Linked DNA regions of Homo sapiens. The protein of the gene in region 2 interacts with the protein of the main gene of each other region in a pairwise test. Each region holds a gene or a part of one and is shown on either strand. Other genes may lie near its edges.

What was found. Proteins that work in one complex are often made in the same cells at the same time.
Region 1: the proteins of LSAMP (region 2) and ELK3 interact in binary tests that used the Homo sapiens proteins (3 or more experiments, as listed by UniProt).

What each region holds. Positions count from the first base shown.
Region 1 is NC_000012.12:96,196,059-96,204,506, forward strand, and holds part of ELK3 (ETS domain-containing protein Elk-3), read left to right. Parts: intron 1-1,967; exon of another isoform or gene 1,968-2,084; intron 2,085-8,448. UniProt on the Homo sapiens protein: May be a negative regulator of transcription, but can activate transcription when coexpressed with Ras, Src or Mos. Forms a ternary complex with the serum response factor and the ETS and SRF motifs of the Fos serum response element.
Region 2 is NC_000003.12:116,084,082-116,093,514, reverse strand, and holds part of LSAMP (limbic system-associated membrane protein isoform 1 preproprotein), read left to right. Parts: intron 1-6,958; coding exon 6,959-7,191; intron 7,192-9,433.

The DNA.
Region 1 (8,448 bases), on a different chromosome or scaffold from region 2:
TCCACTGGCTGCTGCAGGAAGAGAGAGCCCCCTTAGTCATTGCTAAGTAATGTCTGCACACACACCAACTAATCTCATTAGGAGTTTCCGCTGCTCGGCACAGGAGGGGTTTTGTGCAGCCACTGTCAGCCTGGGAGCCCGGCGCTGGGGAAGGAGACAAGTTATGGCTTTATTTACTTAGGGGTGCAGCCGCCCAACGAGCCTTTTCAGGACATGTCTTGAAAACTTTGAAGTCACTTTGGCCATTTTGGATTTCAGATTTGCAGGTTTTTCTTTCCCGCGTGTGTATGTGTGTTGAGAGGTGGGGGGAGATAAGCAGCTCACACACACCCATCTTCTCCATCTGTGCTTGTCTTTGGGGGTGGGGGGGGTGTGGAGCATGTTCCAGGCATCTATTCATGAGCCGAAATCGATTTGTGAGCCTTACAAAATACCCTCTGATCTCTTTTTCTTTCTCTCTCGCCATGGCACCCATTTATTTGGAAAAGGTCAGTTAGGAGTTTCAATTTATGAGGATGATAAAATTACAAATTGTGTTAGGAGGGCACATGGGTCAGGCAGTTAAGGAGACTGTCCATAAGTGTTCTTAGAGTTTCCAGTAATGATCCTGCCTAGAAACCCCCCTGAGTTTGAAAAGTGATGGCCTTTCTATGCCAAATATAGCAAAGGCCTTCTGCCCTCTAAAAGTGTTTTTTTTTTTTTTTTTTTTTAATTTAAATGTTGCGTAGAAATGTGTGGCGTTACTAAAAAGGGTCAAAAGGAACCTGATTGGAATGATGGGGCCCCTTTATTGACAAAGACATGTTGCTTTTAAGGTGTTGGCAGTTCTTTTACGGTGGCAAAGTTGTCCTAAAAACAGCCCAAACAGCCCGACCGGGGTATGAGTCAGTGGACATGAGTACAGGATGTCCCTAATGCTATGCCTTCACAGAGTAGGTGCTCAATAAATTGTAGCATTGAAAGCTGTGAGTAGGCTAACAAAACTTATAATAGGTAAGAAAAAAGACTTACGAGATCTCATACATTTTGCATGAGTGTTCCTTAAGAATGGAGGTTGTAAACTCTCTCCAGAGTACATTTCCTTTAAATAAAAAAGGGAGTATTTAGAATTCCTCCTTCTAAGTAATTATTTGGGACACATAGGTTCATTTACGTTAGTGGTTCACAACTAGGAGTAATTTTACCTCCCAGGAGACATTTGGCAATGTCTGGAGATGTTTTTGGTTGTTATAACTAAGGGGGTGCATTGGCTTCTGGAGGGTAGACGCCAGGGGTGCTGCTAACCAGTCAACAATGCACAAGAAAGAATTTTTTTTGCCCAAAATGTCTATAGTGGATTGAGAAAAATCTTATTTACTTTAATGATGATGAAGATGATGAAAGCTCTTTAACACGCATTCAGTCAACAAATAGGACATTTAAAAGTCATCATCTGTAATTTTGGCCACATACGTAACATAGCATTCATGAATTTTCTCTTTCTCTTTTTGGTCAGTAACATGCAATAATAGAGTGACATACGGATGGTGACCTTGTGATGGTGTACCCTTTATGTCCTGAATTAGGCCATCCATCTCTGAAACTCTGCAAGTATAGCATCTTCATGCACTTGGTACCAATGCTGTTGAGACCAGAATGGCAGTAGTCCAGATAGGGGAGAGCAGTGATTTGCCAGCTCCATTTGAGTTTTGAAGTTAACCTAAACATTTATTAAAGACCTCCTCTTTTTCTTATATAAAAAATTAAATAAGTCAAAAGTGCTAATATACAGTACATGTAACTCTGAGGTCATATATTAAAATTTATATTTGTAATAACTTTTTGGAACTTGAATCTTTTCCTGAAATTGGTTTTAAAGGACTTCCAGGCAGTGTATGTAAATTAAAATATTCCCTTCTTAGCTGTCAGATATTGGATTTTGTGTGTTCTGTGGGACCCAATTATATTTATATATCTATCTGATTCAGAAGACCAGTATGGTGCTGTGAAATGTTGCAAAACATGACCTGATGACAACCCAAAACACTTCATAGAAAACTATCCAAGAATGTGACTTCCTGGAGTAGAGTCTTTTTTCACTGAGGGTGAGTTGCTGCTTACTAATCGTTAGTTTTGTTGCCTTCCAATTCTAAGGAATGACTCAGTCATCTCCATGTTTCCCAGACCTGGACTTCCTCATGAAACTTTATTTTTTTAATTGTTTATGTTGCCAGGGCTGGCCTTGCACTCCTGGGCTCAAGTGATGCTCCCACCTCAGCCTCCGCAGTAGCTGGGGTTACAGGTGTGAACCTCTGTACCAGCTGTCTCATTAAAGTTTAAAAGAAATGGGCTGTCTGTCCATTCTGGCTTTGTTCTGGCTGTAGAGCCCAGATGACTGTCTTCTGACCCTTTCCTAAGGTTCTGTACATAAATACGCAGATGAGAGGGGAAGGGGACTCCATTTTTGTTAGATTTTCTTGTATGTTTCAGGCAAAAGTTTTTTATGTCCTGGTTATCTTTAATTCCTCTTTGCCTGTATAGATCGACTTATAACACACTTTGAGACCATGCTAGCAGAATAGTATCTTCTAAAGGTTGGTTGTTTTTTTTCCTATTGTAAAAAATATTAATGTGAATTGCCTTACAAAGATACAGAAAACTGCTATAAAAAAATAGACATCTCCCATAATTCCACTGTTTACCTTTTGATGTGTAATTGTTCAGTTTTTTAAAAAAATGCATATGTGTGTCTATGTATATCCACACATGCACATACCATTTTTAATTGAAAGCACACTGTACTTACTGTTTTATAACTTTTTTCACTTAACATGTAACACATTTTAATAATTAGTACCGAGACCGAAATTATCACATAGAGCTTCTATTTATTGATCTAATAAATGTGTTGGCTCAACCATGGATTGACATAATTTCTTCATAGACTTGTTCAGTGTTTTTTGTCCTCTGTGGTTCAAGTAATGTTCTAAGAATGCTGCCCTCTTGAAAGACTGAGTTCCTATGTGCTGTGAAATTTTGGATTTTGATGAGTTTCTCTGTGATTTAAGGATGAGTCATGATTTGCAGTAGAATATCAAGATGTAGTAACAGGAAGTACAGGGCACTACACATGAAAATAGAATGTTAAATGATGAAGAGAAACCAGGTTAAACTGAAAATATACCTTGAAATTATCCAACTATGAAGGGAGAGGAAGGTGTGTTTTGTACATTTTAACAACTCCTATTACTGTTTCATTTTCTATCAGTGGAGTTTCCAAACTTTGAAGTTGGTGTTTTAAATTGATTTTTAGCTCAAGATTGCTGTTGTTCATAGCCACTTTGAATTGAGGTCATTCAGCCTTTTGATTGAAACCATGGCAGTGAGACCATGAAAACTCTAGTTTTGCCACTTATAGAGCAGCCCCAGTAAATAAAATTAGCTGTGTGTGTGTGTGTGTGTGTGTGTGTGTGTGTGACCTTCTGTGAAATTCTAAATGTCTTCAAAAATGGTAGATTACTCAGTCTTTTAAATAACTATTCTGTGCAGAAATTCAACTCCCCATGGTTCCTGCCTGAAACCAAAATAAAAATTGCCTTTCATCCATTACTGGAGATTTACATATATGTCAGCAGTTTTAAAGTAAACTTTGAACTAGTCATTTCAATAAATTGTGATTTGGTTTGAATTCCCACTAGGAATAAAGTCATTGACTACTTTATTGCTATGTATTAATTTACATTTCCTGGAAAGTACTACTTTTTTCTAAGAATTAAATAAGATTATAACATGGCTTTACTTGTATATTTTTAAAGAAATTTAGACAATGTTATATTAGTGTATTCTAATTTGAATTAGACTGAAATGAATTTACTCACACACTCTAAAACAAGGATCTATTTATGACACATAGTGTCATAAATATGCTTAAAGTTTCTATAGCTAAGAACAATTTCTGAATATCCATGTGTAATATGGGAGTGATGGGATAGGTATAAAACACTTATCTAGATACCTTCTCTTTTTATTTTTTAAATTGATATAAATGTACATATTTATGGGGTACATAGTGATTTTTTACATATATATCATGTATAGTAATTAGATCGAGGTAATTAGATCCATCATCTCAAATGTTTATGATTTATTTGTGTTGGGAACATCCATTATCTTCCTTCTAGTTAATTGAAACTATATAGTATTATAGGCATCCTGCAGTGCTATAGAACACGAGAACTTACTCCTCCTGTTGGAGACCTTCTCTTAAGACTGATGAAGCTAGGGCTCCTGTACTCCAAGCAATAGAGTAAAGAAAACGAGGCTCTTGGTATCTTCCCCTCTCTCTTTTTTTTAAGTTGAGGTATGATTTACATATATTAAAATGCGCAGATCTTAAGTGTTATTGTATACATACATGTAACCCTACCCAAAGAGACAATATTTCCATGTCCCCAAGTGTTTTTTGGCTTATGTATTTAGAGACAGAGCCTGGTTCTGTCACCCAGGCTGGAGTGCACTGGCACTGTCATAGCTCAGTGCAGCCTCAAACTCCAGGGCTCAGGTGATCCTCCTGCCTCAGTCTCCCAAGCAGATAGGACTGCAGGTGTGCACCACCACACCTGGCTAATTTTTTTTTTCTTTTTGAGACAGTGTCTGGCTCTGTTGCCCAGGCTGGAGTGCAGTGGTGCAAGCTTGGCGCACTGCAACCTCCGCCTCCTGTGTCTAAGCAATTCTCATGCCTCAGCCTCCCAAGTAGCTGGTATCATAGGCATATGCCACCATGCCTGGCTAATTTTTGTATTTTTAATAGAGACGGGCTTTTGCCATATTGGCCAGGCTGGTCTCAAACTCCTGGCCTCAAGAGATCTGCCTGTCTCCACCTCCAAAGGGCTGGGATTAACAGGAGTGAGCCACCATGCCTGGCCTCTGGCTAATTTTTTTATTTTTTGTAGAAATGGGGTCTCATTATCCCTGGCCATTTACAAAATTCTGTTACGGCAATTTCATGATTCTACCATATAGATTCTTAAACTTCAGAATACCTTGATAAAATATTGTGGTATTTTATTTAATCTGCTTAGTTAAAAATAAATCAGAATGTGTAGATTTCCTCATCATACAGTAAGAGGAAAAAGAAAAATCCTTTCTGTATTACCTGATATCCGCAAAATATTTAACCAAAAGTAATATGTGTGCTTTAGGAAAAATGTATTACCTGAAGACTAATTGGGATGAGAGGATATTAGTAAATCTTCCCAGACCTCAGTTTCTTTAGCCTGATGGTAAAGTAGTTGAAGTGGAGGCTGGGTGCAGTGGCTCACATGTGTCATCCCAGCATTTTGGGAGGCTGAAGCAGGCAGATCACTTGAGCCCAGGAGTCTGAGATCAACCTGGGCAACATAGTGAGACCCCATCTCTGCCAAAAATTAGCTAGACGTGGTGGTGCGTGCCAGTAGTCCCAGCTACCCGGGAGGTCAAGGCTGCAGTGAACCATGATTGCGCCACTACACTCCAGCCTGGGTAACAGAGTGAAACCCTGTCTCAAAAAAAAAAAAAAAAAAAAAAGGGATTGAAGTGGAGAAGCTGAGATATACTCCCTTTCAAGTCGGAAGCCCTATTTGTGTACTGCTATATTTGGAGGAAAGGTCTTGACTCCTAAGAGTTGTGAAAGTGTGATATGAACTTCTTGCTGTCATCTCCAGACATCTGACTTATAGACATATGCAGGAATTTAAACAAACAGCTATTTTGTGGTGGAAAAGGGGGATCTCCATAAGTTTCCCCTTGAATTCCATTTTGGCCCCTTATTGAATAAGGAACACTCCAGTGGAAGGCCAGTATTAGCTGCCATGCTTCCTTTCCTCCTAGTCTTTTGAGGTTTGTGACAGGCAGCACTGATTTCTAATGACCCACAGCCACCTCATTCTTGGGGACATCAGTGACTGTCTGAGTTGGTGCTCTGTAGCACCAGATAAGAGTTTGGTCACCTGGTGAAATTCCTCCTCCTTCCTTCTGATAGTCTTTGAAAGTGCTGTCTGCCCCCACTGCTGTATCTTGAGGGTTCTTACATTCCTCTGCACCCGCTCTGATCCCTTCTCTCCCCAGGAGCTAGAACAATCCTTTCAAAACACAGATCTGACCAGGTCATTCTTCTACTGAAAAATCTTCTAGTGACTTCAGCTTAGGATAAAGACCAAAACCCCTAACTCAAGCTGCAAGATGTGATTTGGGCCAGCAAACTGACTTTTCCTCAGTTCCTCAAATGCTTAAGGTGTCCTCTGCCCTCTGTCCACTGGGTCTTTGTCAATACTGACAGAATTTTCCCCCCGACCCCTCTATTTTTCAGACTCCATGCCTAACCAATTTGTAGGCGTCTTTTAGTTCACACTCAGCTCCACCATGTTTTATTGGGGAAGCCTTTCCTGTCACCTAGAGTAGATCTCCCTCAGTCATCTGCTCCTGGCCTTCAGAGCCCTTACCACAAGCTTTTTTTTTTTTTTTTTTTGAGAGATGGAGTCTTAGCCTGTTGCCCAGGCTGGAGTGCAGTGGCACCATCTTGGGTCACTGCAACCTCCACCATGTGGGTTCAAGAGATTCTACTGCCTCAACCTCCCAAGTAGCTGGAATTACAGGCTTGTGCCACCACACCTTGCTAATTTTTGTGTTTTTATTAGAGACAGGGTTTCGCCATGTTGGCCAGGCTGATCTCAAACTCCTGGCCTCAACTGATCCGCCTGCCTCGGCCTCCCAAAGTGCTGGGATTACAAGTGTGAGCCACCATGCCTGGCCACCACAGGCTTTATTTACAGGTTGCCTCATTACCTGAATTCTCTCTCTCCAAATTCTTGTTACCCAAACACAGGAACATGAGATGGAGTCTCGCTCCGTCGCCCAGTCTGGAGTGCAGTGATCTCAGCTCACTGCAACCTCTGCCTCCTGGGTTCAAGTGATTCTTCTGCCTCAGCCTCCCAAGTAGCTGGGACTACAGGCATGCGCCACCCCACCTGGCTAATTTTTGTATTTTTAGTAGAGACGGGGTTTCACCATGCTGGCCAGGCTGGTCTCGAACTCCTGACCTCGTGATCCACCCGCCTCAGCTTCCCAAAGTGCTGGGATTACAGGCATGAGCCACCATACCTGGCCAGGAACTAGACAGTTTTAGAGACATCTTTCTGAAATAGGGCTGGTGCCCCTCATTATTCATTAATGCTATTTTCTCCAAAACCCGGGAACCAAATAGATGTGATAGCATGGCATCCCTCATGATCTGAAGTTACTGTCCGTAACTGCGGTCCCATTCGATTTGGATATTGGGGGATGCCTGCACGTGTCTGTGTCATGTGCTGCATGTCTGCGGTGCCATCAGTCTGTGAGCTCCCTCTGGGCCTGCGTCCGTTTTTCTCATCCTTTGTATTATCTCAGCACTTTGTACAATACCTGGCACTCAATGAATTAAAAATAATCTGAAGCGGGGGTTGGGGGGAGCTTGTCAATATAGCCCCACCTTGTTTTGCCCTTGGACTTGATAAAGCCGTTTGTTGCTATGCATATGTCCATCTCTTTTCTAGACAATGAGTTACTTGGATGAATAGGCAGATCTCTTGGTTAAACCATAAAGACAGGCTGGGCGCGGTGGCTCACATCTGTAATCCCAGCACTTTGAGAGGCCGAGGCGGGCAGATCACTTGAGGTTAGAAGTTCGATACCAGCCTGGCCAACATGGTGAAACCCAATCTCTACTAAAAATACAAAAATTAGCCGAGTGTGGTGGCGCATGCCTGTAATCCTAGCTACTTGGGAGGCTGAGGCAGGAGAATCGCTTGAACCCGGGCGGTGAAGCTTTCAGTGAGCCGAGATTGTGCCATTACACTCCAGCCTGGGCAACAGAGCGAGACTGTGTCTCAAAATGAAAACCCATAAAGACAGCCAAAAAGCTCCTCTATGCCACTTCCCATACTTCTTGTTTAGACTTGCAAGAAAAGTGGATATATAGAAATGAGGTTAGTTTGCTAGTATCCTGGAGGACAGGGTTTGGCTCTATTGTTGGTATCAGTGTTACTATACTGAGAGTGGTCGGTTAACAGTAAAGTTATTCGTGGGATAGGATATGTTGAAAGAATCTCAATGTAAAGTTTTTTTTTTTATAGAATTAATCATTGTAGAGCAACCATCATTAGTCCTTTATTAAAGACTTCAGTTGATCAGGTTTTCGTAGTTCCCTTGGATAACCAGTTTTTAATCCTGTAAGATCCACAGTTCAGGGTCCTTCTTTACTTATAGAAAACCTGTGTGTGTAGCTTCCATCTATACCTTTTTGAAATTAATGATGTTTCTGATTGAGTTTGGAAATAACAAAAGATTCTGCTTACGTGATTATGAAGACTTGATTGACTAAACACCCAAACGGGGGAGGACTAGGTCTCCTAATAAATTTCAGCTGGGTTTTGCCAAGGAGCAATTTGTTGATAG
Region 2 (9,433 bases):
TTGCTGTGCCTTTGTCATGAACTTTGCTGCTGACAATTAAGTAGGTATAAATTAAAAAGCATAAGCCTATGAAAACACACTACTGCACTTTAGATGTTTGTCCTATGCTTCTGGATGTGTAAACCAAGAGACAGACATCTATATCTGGGTATTTCAACCTCGATCCTGTCAACATTTTGGATAAGATACATCTTTGTGATTGGGGGCTGTCCACGGCATTGTAGGATGTTTAGCAACACCCCTGGCCTCTCCCTACTAGAAACCAATAGCAACACCCCCTCCCTAGTTGTGACAACCAAAAAATGTCTCCAGATATTGTCAGTGTCATCTAGGGGCACAGATTGCCTTCACTTGGGACCACTTATCTAACTGTTCTTTCTTAAGAAACAAATAGATTTCTCTTACCCATCCAGTTACACTGCTCCCAGCCTCTGCAATGTATAAATATGAGTATAGATAACTGGTGCGGATTACATAAAATATATTTATTTGTTATCAGTGAATAAATACCAGATTATACTCTTGAGAAAAGAAGGAAATTTATGCAAGGCTAAGTCTGGACAAATTTGAATCCTAAGTTGGTATGTTTTTTAACAGCCATTAATGCTTGTTAAATATGAAATGTGTCCAGCAGCAATTGAACAGGCTTAATATTTGGTAGATATGTATCAATTACATCATAGATATCTTGTCAGTACATATGCTATTAAGTAATCTGTTGGTACAAACTGATTTTAGCATTTCTTTTCTACCTCCAGTTATATTCATTTTTTAAGCAGTATAACCCCCACTCTTGTGCAATGTTACTAGAATTGTCAATGTACCTGTTTGTATAAGTCTGCATAATAGACTTGATGTAAAGTGTTTGAAGAAATTCAATGCTTAAGATTTGTATGGGTGCATTGATTTTTTGTGACAGTTTTATGGAATCAAATATACTAAACAGGGAAGATAAAAATTTGTGTGCTTACCTTTCCTAATTTTTTTAAGAGATGATTTTTTAAAAATCATAGATTTGCAGTTCCAGTAGGTAACCCATCTAATATTTGAGGGTTCATGATTAACGTGAGCAACCTCCTAATCACTTATTTAGGATGTTATACTTTTTTTTCACAGTTTTTCACATGCAATATAGATCATTTAGTTCCTAGAGATGATATTTCTTCATAGTGGACACAGGAACACATTTTTTCTCTCCTTTACTTTCATTTTAATACCACACTCAATAATTCTCTTTAAATTTCCCTTTATACCTAATAACTTTAATTATTTCTTAAGAAATATTAAAATAGTTATCCATCTTTACTGTACCTATTAGATAATTAATGAATATTTTATAATTGACCTAATGCAATTTGTTAAATTAAATTCAGCTTGTTTATTCCACATTTCAGCAAGTATCTACTATGCACATGGTATTTATGCACATGGTATTTAGGCTCAGTGAGGGCTCCAGAGGTGAATTACAAGAAGGTCACTGTCTTAATAAGCTTATGAGAAAAGATGAGTGCAAATAACTCTAATGCAATGTGGAGTATGATAAGGTCATAAAAAGGAAGTTTTAAGAAGGTTACACTGACGAGAGAAGATTTTCTGAAGAGGTGGCACTTTATAGCATACGTCCATGTCCTCAGCTGCCTTCCATAAAACCCACCCAAAGCGGAAGGATATTCTCTGATCCTCTCCTCGTGGCACTAACACCCATTGTCATTAGGGTCCGGTTCTTTCTAAACCTGGGAATTATTTGCAACATCATGTGTTCCTCAAGACAACATTCTATTAAAACAACACATAACACTAACAGGTTTTTGAAATACATCTTTTTATCTTCCTGCTTTAGCCCAGGTTGATTCTAGAGATAAAATTGTTGCGGGAAGTCAGGGACCCCAAACGGAGGGACCGGCTGAAGCCATGACAGAAGAACGTGGATTGTGAAGATTTTATGGACATTTATTAGTTCCCCAAATTAATACTTTTGTAATTTCTTATGCCTGTCTTTACTGCAATCTCTAAACATAAATTGCGAAGAGTTCATGGACACTTCTCACTTCCCCAATCAATACCCTTGTGATTTCCTATGCCTGTCTTTACTTTAGTCTCTTAGTCCTGTCAGCCGAGAAGGATGTATGTCACCTCAGGACCCTGTAATAATTGCATTAACTGCACAAATTGTACAGCATGTGTGTTTGAGCAATATGAAATGTGGGCACCTTGAAAAAAGAACAGGATAACAGCAATTGTTCAGGGAATATGAGAGATAACCTTAAACTCTGGCCGCCGGTGAGCCGGGCAGAACAGAGCCATATTTCTCTTCTTTCAAAAGCAAATGGGAGAAATATCACTGAATTCTTTTTCTCAGCATGGAACGTCCCTGAGAAAGAGAATGCGCACCTGGGGGTAGGTCTCTGAACTGGCCCCCCAGGGGCGTACCTGTCTCTTATGGTCGAGATTGCAGAGGTGAGATAGTCTCCAGTCTCCCATAGCGCTCCCAGGCTTATTAGGAAGAGGAAATTCCCACCTAATAAATTTTGGTCAGACGGTTGATCTCAAAACCCCGTCTCCTGATAAGATGTTATCAATGACAATGGTGCCCGAAACTTCATTAGCAATTTTAATTTCACATCGGTCCTGTGGTCCTGTGATCTCGCCCTGCCTCCACTTGCCTTATGATATTCTATTACTCTGTTAAGTACTTGATGTCTGTCACCCACACCTATTCACACATTCCCTCCCCTTTTGAAAATCCCTAATAAAAACTTGCTGGTTTTTGTGGCTTGTGGGGCATCACGGATCCTACCAACGTGTGATGTCTCCCCTGGACACCCAGCTTTAAAATTTCTCTCTTTTGTACTCTGTCCTTTTATTTCTCAAGCCAGCCGACGCTTAGGAAAATAGAAAAGAACCTACGTGATTTTCCGGGGCAGGTCCCCCGAAACAAAATCATTAAGTATAAAGTTTAGAACTAAATTGCAGCAACATTCTAGGTAGGTGATAATTCATTATTATCATATTATAATGGCATGGCCCGAGAATTCTCATTTACTCCACAAGCCTGCCTAATGCACAGTTGAGCCAGCAGACCTCAGAGATGCAAGCCCATGATGCTTATTGGTGATTCAGTGAATGCTGGGAACCTGGGTCTGTATTTATATCAGCATTTCTTATTTCCAGATAGCCAGGTGGTCTGTCAGTACACTGTATGACTAGTTATTATCTCTTAATAAACGTAGACCTCTACAAATTGAAACTACTGATTCTGGTTTACTATATTTTCTTTTCTTTCTCTTTCTTTTTTTTTTTTTTTAGACAAGGTCTCACTCTGGCCAGGCTGGAGTGCAGTGATGTGATCATAGCTCACTGTAGCCTTGAACTCCTGAGTTCAAGTGATTTTCCTGCCTCCAGCCTCCCAAAGAGCTGGGATTACAGGCATGCGCCACCGTGCCTGGTCCTACCATTTTTTTTCATGTGTACTTTTTATGATTAAAAAAAATAGGTGCCACCTTAAATTAAGATTCTAAAATTAAGAAAATATTTAGTTCTGAAATTGCATTATTCCTTTACTCATTTTTTATTAAGAAAGTTTTAGTCACATTGTAGAAGGATTATTTTCCAGTTTATAGAGCTAATAGATTTATTTTGCAACTACTGAGTACATAAAAAGGAACCCTGAAAGATCTGGAGAAGTGGTTTCCTTTTTATTTTATTTTTATTTATTTATTTTTTTTCCATTGAGATATATTTATTTTAAACAAATTTCTCCTTGAAATGGTTTCCTTTTTAAAAACACTATACTGTATTGTGTTCTGGTGCTTGGAGTTTGGCTAACCATCTGAGTTAGGAAAAAGTATGTGTATTCTAGGCCGGGCACGGTGGCTCACGCCTGTAATCCCAGCACTTTGGGAGACCGAGGTGGGCGGATCACGAGGTCAGGAGATTGAGACCATCCTGGCTAACACGCTGAAACCCCGTCTCTGCTAAAAATACAAAAAATTAGGCGGGCGTGGTGGCAGGCGCCTGTAGTGCCAGCTACTCGGGAGGCAGAGGCAGGAGAATGGCGTGAACCTGGGAGGCAGAGCTTGCAGTGAGCTGAGATTGCACCACTGCACTCTAGCCTGGGCGACGGAGCGAGACTCCATCTCAAAAACAAAACAAAACAAAAAAAAGTATATGTGTATTCTAATATACTATTCACTTGTTTGTCAGTAAAAGACGAATTTTAAAAATAAATACGGATAAAACCCAGATCAAAAACAAGGTGCTATGTAAATTGTCATAACAAAATTTCCACATAATACATTGTTTCATTAGATGCACTTTTATGCATCTGGCAATTTTGCTGAAATGGTCAATTACTTCTTTAGGTAAGATAGAGCTGAACACCCTCAAAGAATAATTTGGAATAATGATCCGTATGACTTTAACTTTTCCATGAATGAAATTTGCTAAAATGTCAAAGGACCATAAAGACCCGACTTATAAACTTTACCTTATATTGTTAAGGAAATCTGTCCAATTTATTTGTGGGTGCTATAGGACTTGGGATGGGGACGTGGAATATAGGTTACCAAATGTCCTGTATCTGCATGTGTGACCCAGTTAGTTCACAGGACAGGCATTTATCAAATGCCTGTTTTATCCTAGATTAGTTATTGGTGGTATCCAAATGAATAAGGTAAAAATTTGCTGTTTTTATTGGATTCACAGGCCATATTTAGGTAAGCTATATTACGTGGTATTTTTTCTTTTAAAGTGAAGAGATTGGAGCCATATTTGGTGCTAAGAGGCATTCAGAATACATCTATAATGTAGCAAATCTGACCATTCTTGTGTTACGCTGTGCAGGTGAGAAACATGCACAGGGAAAAATGATAGAAGATTTAAAACACATTTACACAGGTAAATTTCTATCCTTCTTACTAGAATAGAAAAAACATGGTAAATCTACATTCAACAATTTCATAATGGTCTAGAGTAAGACACCAAACATCCTATTAATTAATTCATCAATGATTTTAAATTCAGAGATGCGGCAAACATCACCAAGAACAGAGAAATGATGCCACAAGAGAGGAGAACAGCAAAAGTAAAACTGAGTCTGGAATGAGGCAGCAAGCATTCATGAAGTTAGCTTGGTGCTCATGATAAAAGGCCTCTAAATTATTAAACACATAAATTATACTCAATAATATATGCATGGCAGAGAAGCACATACTGGGAAATGGAGATGTTAAATGATACCTAAATCTAGTTATGTTTATGAAAACAAATAGGTAAAGAAGAAAAGTAAGACCTGTGTATCTTGGCACCCAACTTATTAAGTCAAATTCTTACTCTAGGGTCAGGCATGGTGGCTCATGACTATAATCCCAGTGCTTAGGGAGGCCAAGTTGGGAAGATCACTTGAGGCTAGCCTGGACAACACAGCAAGACCCCATCTCTAATTTTTTTTTTAAATTAGCTAGTCCTGGTGGCATGCACCTATCATCCTAGCTACTTAGGAGGCTGAGGCAGGAGGATTGCTTGAGCTCAGTAGTTTGAGGCTGCAGTGAGCTATGATCAGGCCACTGCTCCCCAGTCTTGGTGACCGAACAAGATCTGTCTCAAAAAAAAAAAAAAAAATCTCCCTCTAAATAACATATACAATTCGTTTAAAATTAATAGGATAAGGAGGTCTTTGTATTATACCATAAATGGAGTATTTAAAAAGACTTAGCTGTTATCTTTCTTGTAAGAGACACAGTTGGCCTTTATATTCCATGTGGGACAGCCTATGGGTTATGCATCAATTTTCTGTCTATGTTTAGTTGTTTTGACCTGAGATAAAAACTGGATTTTACTTGGCTTAGAAAATACAGGGGAACAGGGTGTCTTAATAGTCCTGCTGTGGTGCTCGTGGCTCTTTCTGTTCATTCCCTCCTGCTCCAGAGTGTTGAGCAGCTGGCTTTGCAGCTGTGAACAGGGTTTGGGACATCTCCCTATGGGGCAGACATAAATCTTGCCACAGGGATGCAGACAGAAGGTTTTTTTGTTTTTGTTTTCTGCTAGATTTTTCCATTGCAAGACTCTTGCTGGAACTGAAGGAGAAAACCATACTCACCAAAAAGTATTTACCCCTCCTTCACTAATGCATGTTCTTTGCCCCTTTCAAATTTCAGAAAGAGACCCTTTTAAGTTTTTTAAAGCAGTAATTCAATTAAGCGTTATTCCTTTACCCTTTTTGATCTATTGGTCTATAAACTACAAAATTGGCTTCTTCATCTTTGTTAAAGATTGCCTGCATTTAGTGTGACTAGAAATGCTGGTAGCAACCTAACTTGCCACCAAACAAGCTTCTGCCTTCAGCAGCTGGAACCAAACTTATGCCAGATGATGTTTGCTTTGATTTCCTTGTCATAACACCTATCCCCTTATGCTTGGATCTGCTCACACAATTTTTACTCCTGGAAGTGGCATCCCAAACTTGTAAAGATTAGAAGTAAACTCAGAAGTCTAGTCTAATTCCTATAATGGTGGAGTATAACTTTAATCTATCATTACACAATACTATAGGAAATACTTATAAAAGAGTAAACACAGTTCAAGATGGAGTAAAAGTGCTATGATATCAATTGTATAATTCTCAAAATTACTTAAACAGACGGAGTTCTGAGTGAGTGGCCTTTTCCTAAACAAGAAGAAGATAATGGGAAGTCAATACTAATTTAACTTTGCCTTCATTACTCATACTCAGATTGTTTATTGCTGAACTGAGTCTAATATAATGACATCCATCCACTGGATGGTAATTAGATCTTAAATGAAATAGTGAAAATTCTAAGGACTCCAAGAATGGCATGGCAATAATTCATTCTGCATATAATTATTTTCCTTGTTTAGACTTGTTGAGTCTGATCACCTAGAGAAGAAACGCAGAAATAGTTGTTGTTAAGGCACTAATATTGTTACTCTGCTCTGTCAGGTGCGTTGTAGAAGACAAGAACTCAAAGGTGGCCTGGTTGAACCGTTCTGGCATCATTTTTGCTGGACATGACAAGTGGTCTCTGGACCCACGGGTTGAGCTGGAGAAACGCCATTCTCTGGAATACAGCCTCCGAATCCAGAAGGTGGATGTCTATGATGAGGGTTCCTACACTTGCTCAGTTCAGACACAGCATGAGCCCAAGACCTCCCAAGTTTACTTGATCGTACAAGGTAAGGAAAGTGTGGGATAGAAGGGTGGTAAGAAAGAGGTGGGAGTTGCAGAATAATAATGTACAAAATATTTGCAGAATCCTTCCTGAAAAGAAATATTCCCAAAGATATTATTGGACTTAAGTATCGATTTTCTGTCTAAAAAGACACTTAAAATGAGAGGACCCAAAACAATATAGAGAGTGTACTCCTGTTACTGAGAGCCAGTAACATTGGTGAGAATGTTTTCACCTAGCCCTGAGTGTGAAAACACACGGCAAAAGCCACAGCTGTTGGAACAATGTAAATCAGGGATACCAGAACACACAGAATGCCTAGGGCCATATGAAGTACACTTTTCCACCCTGTTAGGTACCAGATGCTTTGCTGAGTTTAAGAAAGTTTGGGTTTATCTGTCCTCACCCTGAAGATTAGCACTAATTATCTTTTTTGTGATAGCAAAGTTCTTCTGAAAAAATAAAATTTTCCAGAGGACTTTTTATTTTTTCAGCTGTTCAGGTTTCTATGTAGTTTGTATCTCTACTTAATGACAAGTTACTGGTGATGAAATCCAGTGACAAAGATCTGCAAAGTAATTGGGGACAATTTGCTTCTAGATTGGGGGATCTAAGGGCACATCTGAGTCATCGTTTTACAGGATAAAAACCTTAAATGGCACTCACATACCCCCAAACTGTTGCTCAATTGGGTTTCTTTCGCCATAATTGCAGAATGAGAACAAAGCTGATCAGCTGCACAATTTTATTGCAAGTGAAGCCCAACCACCAGCAGTTTCAATGTATCTATCAGGAAAGATCTAAGCACTAACAAACATTAGGGCTGTGTTCATGTATTCTTGATTTATAATTCTATGTAAATTTAATGCAAATTAGGCATGGCCCTAGGGCTCCTGTCAAGGTTCCAATGCAGTCAGTGGTGTGGAAAAGTTTAACTGTAGCTTCTATTAATGTGTTATGGAATTGATTATTGTAGTGTTTAAATTATTGCTCTCCCAACTCCTCTGATTAATAGATTGAAACTGGAATAAAATACATCAGAGACTGCCTGGTGCAGGGGTGCTTTAGTCGTGTGGCCTCTATTTTGGTCCATTTGCAATGGCTGACAGCTTCATTTTATTGCTTGTAAAGGCATGTCTACTAGCTTGCAAAGTTCCAATCACAGTCAAAGCATAGGATGTTTTTCTTGTAGCTTAGTAGAGCGTACTTAAGCTCCATTACAAGAAAGACACCAGGGTATGGATCTTAGGCAACCTATTTAAATTTGTAAACATAACTAGAAATATGTAAATATGCCAATGGGTTAATTTACCAACTCCCTCAAAACAAATACAAGCACACATTTATTCACAAACACACACACACACACACATCAAAACATAAGAAAAAATTCTACTAAATTCAATGGCAGAAGGAGGAGAGATAACTAGTTTACTTAGGATCACTTAGAACAGATTTTACCTACTGACCAGTTATTCAGATTATCTCGTGATTTTTCTTCTTTGATTTCTGATGTAAGATTGTTTATTCATATATTTCTTTATAATGGGTTATGCTTGAAAAAAACTGATTGATTATATTGTGATATTTCTACACAATTTTAGTAGCTTTATGGACTTTGATGTCACTAAAAAGCCACTAGAGACCGTAACTAGAAATTGTGTATTATCCTATACTGAATAAATTTGACAATCTGAGCACTATATCCCTTGGTTTCTAGATGAGCAAATAGAAGTTCATTAAATTTAGGTTACTTGCTCAAAGTCACAAGACAGTTCAGGGAATAGTTGAGTGCCAAGCAGATCTGTAAATCTAAAGCACTTTCCACTGGAATGGAGTTTTTTGGTTTTTTTTGGTTTTTTTTTTTTTTTTGCCATGATTTTAAAGACTAATTTAAGGATTCATAGTTAAGAATTTATATTTAAGTCTGAGCTCTTAGCACCAAATGCCCAATGTTCCTCTTTTTTTTTTCTTATTTACCTTTGTACTCTTAAGCTACAAACATGACCATCTCACAAGGGTTAGAACTAAAATTATGTTAGATACTGCATGTACCTTCCTGACATGGCAGTGCAAATGAAATTAAATTTAACTTAAGGGATGGAGAAGTGCCAAGTCCTGTTTATCTACTATCTCATTTAATTCTAATAATATTACTTTTAGGTAGATGTTTCTCACTTTATTTTATATATATGCAAAAGCTTGAAGTTCAGAGACAGGAAGGAGTCTGCCAAAGGCTTTCTGTA